2 separate regions of the Homo sapiens genome follow, and region 2 is linked to region 1. Evidence: fine-mapped expression QTL. A gene starts in region 1. The other region holds a variant in brackets. All regions are shown on one strand. Distances are between the middles of the regions.

Evidence for each region. PIP is the estimated chance that this variant, and not a neighbour inherited with it, causes the effect.
Region 2: its variant is the best candidate, but not a certain one, in a credible set for the expression of SPA17 in prefrontal cortex (BrainSeq, PIP 0.72).

The regions. Positions count from the first base shown.
Region 1 is chr11:124,671,307-124,675,700 of GRCh38, reverse strand. SPA17 (sperm autoantigenic protein 17) reads right to left here and starts at 1,797. Exons shown (of 5, transcript NM_017425.4): 1 at 1,749-1,797; 2 at 283-463. The coding sequence starts at 436. SIAE (sialic acid acetylesterase) reads left to right here and starts at 1,962. Exons shown (of 10, transcript NM_170601.5): 1 at 1,962-2,059. The coding sequence starts at 1,993. LOC124902780 (a long non-coding RNA gene) reads right to left here and starts at 276. Exons shown (of 2, transcript XR_007062933.1): 1 at 139-276; 2 at 1-35. RefSeq lists an enhancer at 1,687-1,866 and silencers at 1,776-1,934, 1,907-2,026.
Region 2 is chr11:124,699,623-124,704,016 of GRCh38, reverse strand. No RefSeq gene overlaps it. Among named protein-coding and RNA genes, the nearest start is that of SPA17, 28 kb to the right of the region's middle. The variant AAAC/C (reference allele first, on the strand shown) is at 2,390.

The sequences.
Region 1 (4,394 bases):
GAGAAATGTATGCTCTTTTGCAGTTACCTTCCACGCTGTATGTCCGTGAGAAATACAATGAAGACGGTCTGAATAATGAACTGGTAATCTTCGATAATATGAAACGAATTTAAGAGAACATATCAAAGAGGTACATACTGTTTCAAAGAGCAAGAACTGTTATCTGAAACTCCCTGCCTCATAAAAGGCTTTCTGCAGAATGGAGATGGTCTTAAGCAAGTTTTACCATAAACAAATGCTTAGTTTCTTATTTTAAAAAATGACTAATTTTAGAAAGCTTACTCTCTCTTTTCTCTAGAAGGCTCTCAAAATAGGCTGCTGCAAAAGCTGGTATATTGTCCGGTTGCTCTCTCAGAATCTCGCGTGTCAGCCCTTCAAGAAGATTCCCAAATCCTTGTGGAATTCGGTAGTGGGTGTTGGAGAATGGAATCGACATCTTCTTGGTAAGAACTGCCTATGGAACCTAAAGATTCATTAAAGAGTACTGTCTTTAAATTTGTCTGATTTTACTTATATAATCACAACTATGCCAACAAATTATTTCTGAGACTCATACATCTGGACTTGAATTCTTTTTTCCCTAACACAACCCAAGCCCATCCATTTCTTCCAAAGAGTTTTGAAATCTCCATTGTGAATTAGTATAATACAAACACAGACCCATTCACTAGGCCAAATCATTTAAAATCCTGCAAAAAACCCATAATTTTCAATATGACTTTTTCTCTCTTTACCCTTTATATGCTCAAAAGGTAAGGGTAATTTTTGCTATCACACAGGAATTTAGAGAGAATGATTGCTAAAAAGTTAAATTCATTGTCAATTGCTGAGAAGACCTTCTTTGAGGTCTATTTTTTTTTAAAGAGTAGAAATTAGTCCTGGTTCTAGAAATTAATTTGTTGAATGAAGAAGTTGCACAATCTTTCCCCTTGCTGCCACTTCTGAAGCATGACCCACAATGCTTCGAACACCTTCGTACTGTGGAATGGGGTTGTGCGTGCGTGTGTGTGAGGGAGGGATGGGATGGGATGGGGCTGTGTGTCATGATTTTGAAATCCCAGCCTCTAAAGTTTTAGAATTCTTATATTTTTCGGTTTCTTCTTGATCAGGTTGTCTCTTTCTGTCTTGAAATACAAGGGCTAGATTAAGGGTAGCTGCTAAGCAGCGGGCTGAGCTACTACTGAGTATGAAAAGAATCCTCCGGGACCTGGCCTGTTAATGTGAGAGTGTGCGTCAATGCGGAATAGAGGCGGAGGCCGTGGTAGGGGTCCAGGTTGGGAGAACTGGACGGTTTAATGAGGCTCAGACTATGGAGGGTTCTCGTTTCATCGCTTTTTTTTTCTTTGAGAGGGGGTCTCTGGCCTCGAACTCCTGGGCTCCAGCGATGATCCCGCCTCAGCCTCCCGAGCAATTGGGATTACAGGCGCGCGCCACCACGCCTGACTCCTCTCTTTTGCTTTTTCTGAGGGAGCAGTAGATGGGGGTATCGAACCATTCTAGAGTGGTGAAAAGAGCTGGCGAGATTCTGAACCAATGTGGGCAGAGGAGGGCGGGCGGAGGGGGCAGACGGGTCTAGTCGGGGGCGGGATGTTGAGGACCTGGGATTTCAGACTCGCGCAGAATGGGCTGCCTCGGCTCCCAAACGGCCCAGGGCTCCGAGGCTGTGTCTGGGATGCTGAGAGAATAAGAGAGACGAAGGGAAAAGGCTAGGTCTTGGTATCGGAGAGGAAGTGGGGAAGCGGCCTCACCTCCTTTCTCTCCGAGCTGGTGCCGCCGGTTCCGGTTGTTTTTCTAGTTGCTGGGTAACCGTTTTTTCTTTAAAAAAAAAAAAAAACTACGGCGGCCGAGAAGGGGCGAGTACAGCCCAGTCCTGAGGTCGCGGGAGGCTGCGAGGACTGCAAAAGGGTGGAGTCGGCCTCGCCCCCGCCCAGGCCCCGCCCCTGCCGGGAACCCACTTTCCCAGTCCTAGGCGGCGGTCAGATCCTTGCAAGCATGGTCGCGCCGGGGCTTGTACTCGGGCTGGTGCTGCCATTAATCCTGTGGGCCGACAGAAGTGCAGGTGAGGCGGCCCGGCTCGGCCGGACCCCTGCCCCTCAGCCTGTGCGGGCTCCGAGACCCCGTGTCCTCTGCGGGACACGGATCCGCGCCCCTTTCTCAAGGTCGACGAAGGAACCTAGCTAGGCTAGGGGCTCGCGTCTCCGACCGAGGCCCGGTCTGCAGGAGTCTGCTGGGTTGAACCCCGGCCTCTCCACTTTCTCCACCCCCCACTTACCATCCCTGACATGCAGCCTGTGAGCAGGGAGAAAGTGCGGCTTGTCTGAGTGGGGAGGCCCAAATGTGCCCAGAAAGAGGCCTTCGGGGTCCTGGAGTAACTGCAGGGGAGCTCGGAGGGAAGGAGGCGAAGCTAGTTAGGTAATATTTGGAAACAGGTGACTGAATCTTCCAAAACATTTCAGCGCTACCCCCTCAGTGGTGCCCTTGGGGAGGGTTTGCTTCAGGCGGGGTTCCTTAGGGGAATTAAATTTTACTCGTTTAAGTGGTTATCAGGGCTAAGAAATACAACCCCCTCACTAGCTCTGACTATTTAAGGCTCAGTTTTGATTTCTGGTACCGCTTACAGATATTGGTGGTGGGAAAATGTGAGTGGCATAGGGGAGGCTGGTGGCTCCCTTTGGCTGTTGCGCAGGTCAGATCTTGCCATTCGAATACCCTAGGCTGGACACTGGGTCACAGTATGGAGAAAGCAGAAGGTGCAATCTGTCTGATAATGCAAACTAAAGTGATAATGTTGGATTTCTTCCTTTCTGTTTCAAAACACTCAAAGAGTGGACCCCAGAGATCCCTGTTAAGAAATGATAGTTGGGGTAGGAGAACAGCGTGCAGAAAAATGACTCCTGCTCTACCTGAGAGCCGGAAAAGTACCTAGATTCAGACAAACTGCAGCCCATAAATGATTGTTCAGAGTCTAACAAAAGTGCAAAATGCTAGCACTCTGTATGCCATTTCCTGACTCTTATCTCCACTCAGTGACCTTTGAGATCCATCTTATGAGGTGGGGAAAAGATATTTTATTAGGTTTTCAGTTAAAGGCTGTTTATTTTAGTGTCAGTATTTTATCTCCTCCTTTGGGTCTTATTGTTACATCACCTTCATTAACATTGATCACATTTTTCATTCATTAGTACTCTACTTGGTTGCGTATCCTGACGTTTTTCCTTTAAGTCATTCTCCCTGTGCCCATGTTTACCATGTAATGCTTGAGATGTACAAAATTATATGTAACAATGACACAATAAAATGAACACCCATGAGAGCAGTACCCAACTTAAGAACTAGAACATTGCCAGTCTATTGAGCCTGCCATTGTGCTCCTCGCCAATGCATCCGGAGCTCCTCACCAGAGGCAACCACTGCCCTCTCTTCCCCATAACACTAATTCCTGTTTTTCTACTCCAGCCCCAAATGAAGGAAAAAACTGAAGACCTAAAAAATCCAAATGTTGGCTCACACCTTTAATCCCAGCACTTTGGGAGGCTGAGGTGGGCGGATCACTTAGAGTCAGGAGTTCAAGACCAGCCTGGCCAACATGGCGAAACCCCGTCTCTACTAAAAATACAAAAAAATTGGCCAGGCGCGGTGGCTCATGCTTGTAATCCCAGCACTTTGGGAGGCCAAGGTGGGCAGATCATGAGGTCAGGAGTTCGAGACCAGCCTGGCCAACGTAGTGAAACCCCGTCTCTACTAAAGATATCAAAAAAAAAAAAAAAAAGAATTAGCCAGGTGTGGTGGCACATGCCTGTAATCTCAGCTACTCGGGAGGCTGAGGCAGGAGAACCGCTTGAACCCCAGAGGCGGAGGTTGCAGTGAGCTGAGATCGCACCACTGCACTCCAGCCTGGGTGACAGAGCAAGACTCTGTCTCAAAAAAACAAACAAACAAGAAATCAAATGGTAAATGTATGTGTCTTGTGTTTGGCACAAGGAATGACCAGCCTTGCTCTCTTTCTCATTCTCTCTCTCTTTTTTTTTGTCCATTGCACAATTCCTTGATGTTCCACTGTCTACTCTAATGAACTTAGAATTTAAACTTTACAAAGATGAGGAATATGATTTTTTCTTTGATTTGCCACAAGTATCTAATTTCGGCAAAGTGGGAATTTCAACTTTGGAATCAAGTGACTTGTTTTCTAACTTGTCATAAACTGTGTGATTTGAGACCAAAGAACATTAATGTTTGTGGTGTGTTTAGCACTGTGCCTGCCACAGGTAAAGTCTCTAGTAGAATGGAAGCTCCCTGTGGGCAAGGATTTTTGCCTGCTATTATTATTATTATTTTTTCATCGTTATATCCCCAATGCTTAAAATAGTAGGCATCAATAAATATTTGTTGAATTA
Region 2 (4,394 bases), 28 kb before region 1:
CATATTAGGGGTTATAGGACTTCAACATATGAATTTTGAAAGGAACACAACTGAGTCCATAGCATTACTGGTTGGGGCTTTGGTAATTGTAATTCATTTAGAGAAGAAATGTGTATTTTTTTCTGTTATAGATTATCCCCTGACAAGCAAATACGCTTATCATTGAATTTTTATACAGGTCACATTAGAGGAAGCAAAGGGTTTAAAAATGTGCAAGTATGCCAGAAATTTGCAACTTAATCGGTCATAGGTCAGGTTTTTTGGGCATAGTTTTGGAGACAGAATTTGAGCATAGGTGGTTTACTAGAGAGTACATTCGGGAAAAACACCTGTAAGGATGACAGAGAAGCAGGACTGGATAGATGAGGTTGAACTGCGATAAGGTTACAATAAAAGTTTAGCCAATCCTTTGGGTGAGAGCTGGGACGGCTCTGCAAAACTGTCTAAATTTGAGGTAAGGGATCAGCCCTGGTACCAGAGCACTGACTAGGCATTAGATGGGGGCTGCCCCCAGGGAGGGCACAAATTTAATGCTGAGGGCAATTCTTAGAATAGAGGCAGCTTTAAGTCCTGAAAGAGTGGGGAGAAGGGGGCATATCTGGGTAGCACATTACAGCATTGACTATATTACTCAAGCAATCCAAAGGCCAGTGTCTCTAAACTCATTACTGGGACAACAGCACTGCAGTAATCATTCTTTCCTACCAACTGCTTGTTAAGGGTCCAGGTAAGCATATTTTCTATAATTTCAAGGACTTAATAAACAAGTTTTTCTGATAGCTTCCAAAATTGGGTTTAGTACTTGGTTTATTAAACTGGACCGTACTTCTTAGTAATATAGTTTCAGTGGTGTAAGATGCTATACTTTTTGTCATGAAGTCTTTGCCCAAGCCTATGTCCTGAATGATATTGCCTAGGTTTTCTTCTAGAGTTTTTATGGTTTAGGGTTTTACATTTAAGTCTTTAATCCATCTTAGTTAATTTTTGTATAAGATGCTATACTTTTTGGTCAGAAGCCTTCTGAGATAGGAGTGTGTCTTCAGGGGTAGAATAGTGGCAGATTCTCATACCTTCCCCATTGTATCTGACCCTCTTAGGGTTGTAGTTCATACACTTTCTGTGGTAATCTGATGGTCTTGCAGTGTTGATAGTCCTTTGTCAAAGTGTATGGTGGCTCCTGAAATTTTGGTTATAATAACATCACTCCCCAGCAGGCTTTAATTTTTTGGATCTACACAACAGAGGCTGCTTACTTTGAAGCCTATTTCATTCATGAAAATAATTTCACATTCTGAAGTATTGTATTCTGCATGTACAGACTCTTCTGAGACAATCACAGGCATAAATAATTGTCAATCCGAGTAGCTATATTTGTTTTATTTATTTATTTTTTATTTTTTTTCTGAGACAGGGTCTCGCTCTGTCACCCAGGCTGGAGTGCAGTGGCACAATCTCGGCTCACTGCAAGCTCCGCCTCCTGGGTTCAGGCCATTCTCCTGCCTCAGCCTCCCGAGTAGCTGGGACTGCAGGTGCATGCCACCATGCCCAGCCAATTTTTGTATTTTTAGTAGAGATGGGGTTTCACCATGTTGGCCAGGATGTGCTCGACCTCTTGACGTTGTGATCCACCTGCCTTGGCCTCCCAAAGTGCTGGGATTACAGGCGTGAGCCACCATGCCCGGCCTCCAAGTAGCTATATTTGTAAAAAGCACTTCAGATTGGAAATGAGTTTGTCAACATCATGAATTGATACAAAATGGATTATATGTTCATTACAGATAGCAGGAAAGGGAAAATAGGAATAAAAGTAGAGTCCTAGTCCTGTTTATAATGCACTCTAGAAATATCCTCAAGCCAAGAAACCTACAGGTAGGAAATTAGTACCTAGTTTTTGTATTTCCTCCACCCCCGGGCTGCCCCAATAAAACAAGAACATTGGAATAATTTTACAGGGGAAAATCCAAGTTTGAAGATAATATGGTGTCTGCTGAAATATTTCCAAATGTTAGATAGCTCAAGTGGAATACCTAGGAATTCATCTAACCAAGGAGGTCAGAGATCTCGACAAGAAGAACTACAAAACACTGCTGAAAGAAATCAGAGACGAGGCCAGGTGCAGTGGCTCATGCCTGTAATCCCACCACTTTGGGAGGCTGAGGTGGGAAATCACTTGAGCCCAGAAGTTTGAGACCAACCTAGGCAACACAGGAAGATTCTGTCTCTACAAAAATAAAAATAAAAAAATTAGCCAGATGTAGTGGCATAAGCCTGTGGTCCCAGCTACTTGGGAGGCTGAGGTGGGAGGATGGCTGCAGTGAGCCGTGATAGTGCCACTGTACTCCAACATGGGTAACAGAGCAAGACCCTGTCTCAAAAAAAAAAAAAAAAA[AAAC/C]CCAAACAAACAAAAAACAAATCGACAAGCAAATAATCCAATTAAAAATGGGCAAAGGACATGAACAGACACTTTTCAAAAGATGATGTACAAGTAGCCAATAAACATATGAAAAAAATGTTCAGCATCACTAATCATCAGAAAAATGCAAATCAAAACCACAGTGAGATAGATCTCACACCAGTTAGAATGGCAATGATTACCAAGTCAAAAAAGAACAGAGGCTGGTGAGGCTGAGGAGAAAAGGAAATGCTTATACACTCTTGGTGGGAATGCAAACTAGTTCATCCACTGTGGAAAGCATTTGGATATTTCTCAAAGAACTTAAAACAGAACTACCATTCACCCAGCAATCCCACTACTGGGTATATACCAAAGGAAAATTATTCATTCTATCAAAAAGACATGCACTCATATATTCAAAGCAAAGATAAGGAATCAAGCTAGGTGCCCTTCAACAGTGGATTAGATAAAGAAAATGTGATACATATATACCATGGAATACTACATAGCCACAAAAAAGAATGCAATAATGTCCTTTGTAGCAAAATGGAGCTGGAAGCCATTTTTCTAAGCAAATTAACATAACAGGAAACCAAATATTGCATGGTTTCACTTATAAGTGGGAGCTAAACACTGAATACACACAGACATAAAGATAGGGAACAATAGACACTGGAGGCTACTAGACGGGAGGGAAAGAAGGGGGAGTGAGCTGAAAAATTAACTATTGGGTACTATGCTTACTACCTGGGTGACAGGATCATTTGTAGCCCAAACCTCAGTGTCACACAATATACCCATGTAACAAACCTGCACATGTACCCCTTAATCTATAATAAAATTTGAAATTATATAAAAAAGGGAAAGCTCAAGTTGTTTTGAGGTATAGAAACTATTGGGCTAATTTTATTGAGGAATTGGGGAAATTACTGTTCAGTTTGCTTTAGAACAAAGAAAGTGAATGATGTAATAGTTTAGAGGCAGAATGACAGTGATAATTCAAGACCTTATTCTGGGTTCATCTCGGAATCACAGAGACATTGTTTGACTGAGCTTCATATCACAGTGGAACAGAGAAAAATTCCCTCCAAATTATGCTGGGTTTGTGTCTATTAAAAAGAACTGCTTGATGATCTCGACGGAAGATTCCTTCTCCATAGGTACAGTGTTCATAAGAATGTTTTATGAAAAATTCATGTTGACAAACTCTCACACTTAGCTTCCCACAGAGAAAATTTTGCATATATTTCTAAAACAGTTCAAGTTCTCTCTCTCTCTCTCCCTCTCTCATGATTTTTCATACTCTCTTAGACCCAAAGCTCTTTCTATACAGCCTATAGTCCTCTGTTCTACCAGCTGAGCTATCAAAGGGTGCACCCAAAGCTCTTTCTTTTGGGAGAGTCTCCTTTTTGCATTGCATAGCTCCAAGAAGCACCATTAGCATTGCAATTTATGTGGCAGGCTACCCAAATTTCCACATTCCCATGTCTTGTTAACCCCTCATATGCTGTTTCATTTTTCTTCCTTTTATTCTTGATACTTCTCTCATCTTTGGTTTTGATGAATAATTCACAAATGCAGTGTAGTGAGAAGCCAGGTGGTGATTAAAGCATTGTGGTGGATATTTGTTAGTTGACAACATTCCTCTATTCCTCTATTTCCTATAGGAGACTTCAAATTTCCTTCACTTTCAGCCAGATATTTTTGGGCAGAACTGACCTACTCCAGGGACAGGTTCTGACAGTCAAATGCATAAATTTATTAGCATATTCCTTTTCCCTGACCTCAATAATTGATTCAAGGATAGATGTATTACCCAATCAAAGCTAATTAGATGGAAGGAGATTTGCTAGGACTCCTTCAACTTCTGTATGAGGCACTAGAAGTGATTCATTCCTTCCCACTGCATATAAAAAAGGCGCTAGGCAGTGAATAGAATAACAAATCTCTATCTTCATGGAGCATAGATTTTACTGAGGGAAGCAGGCTGTAAACAAGA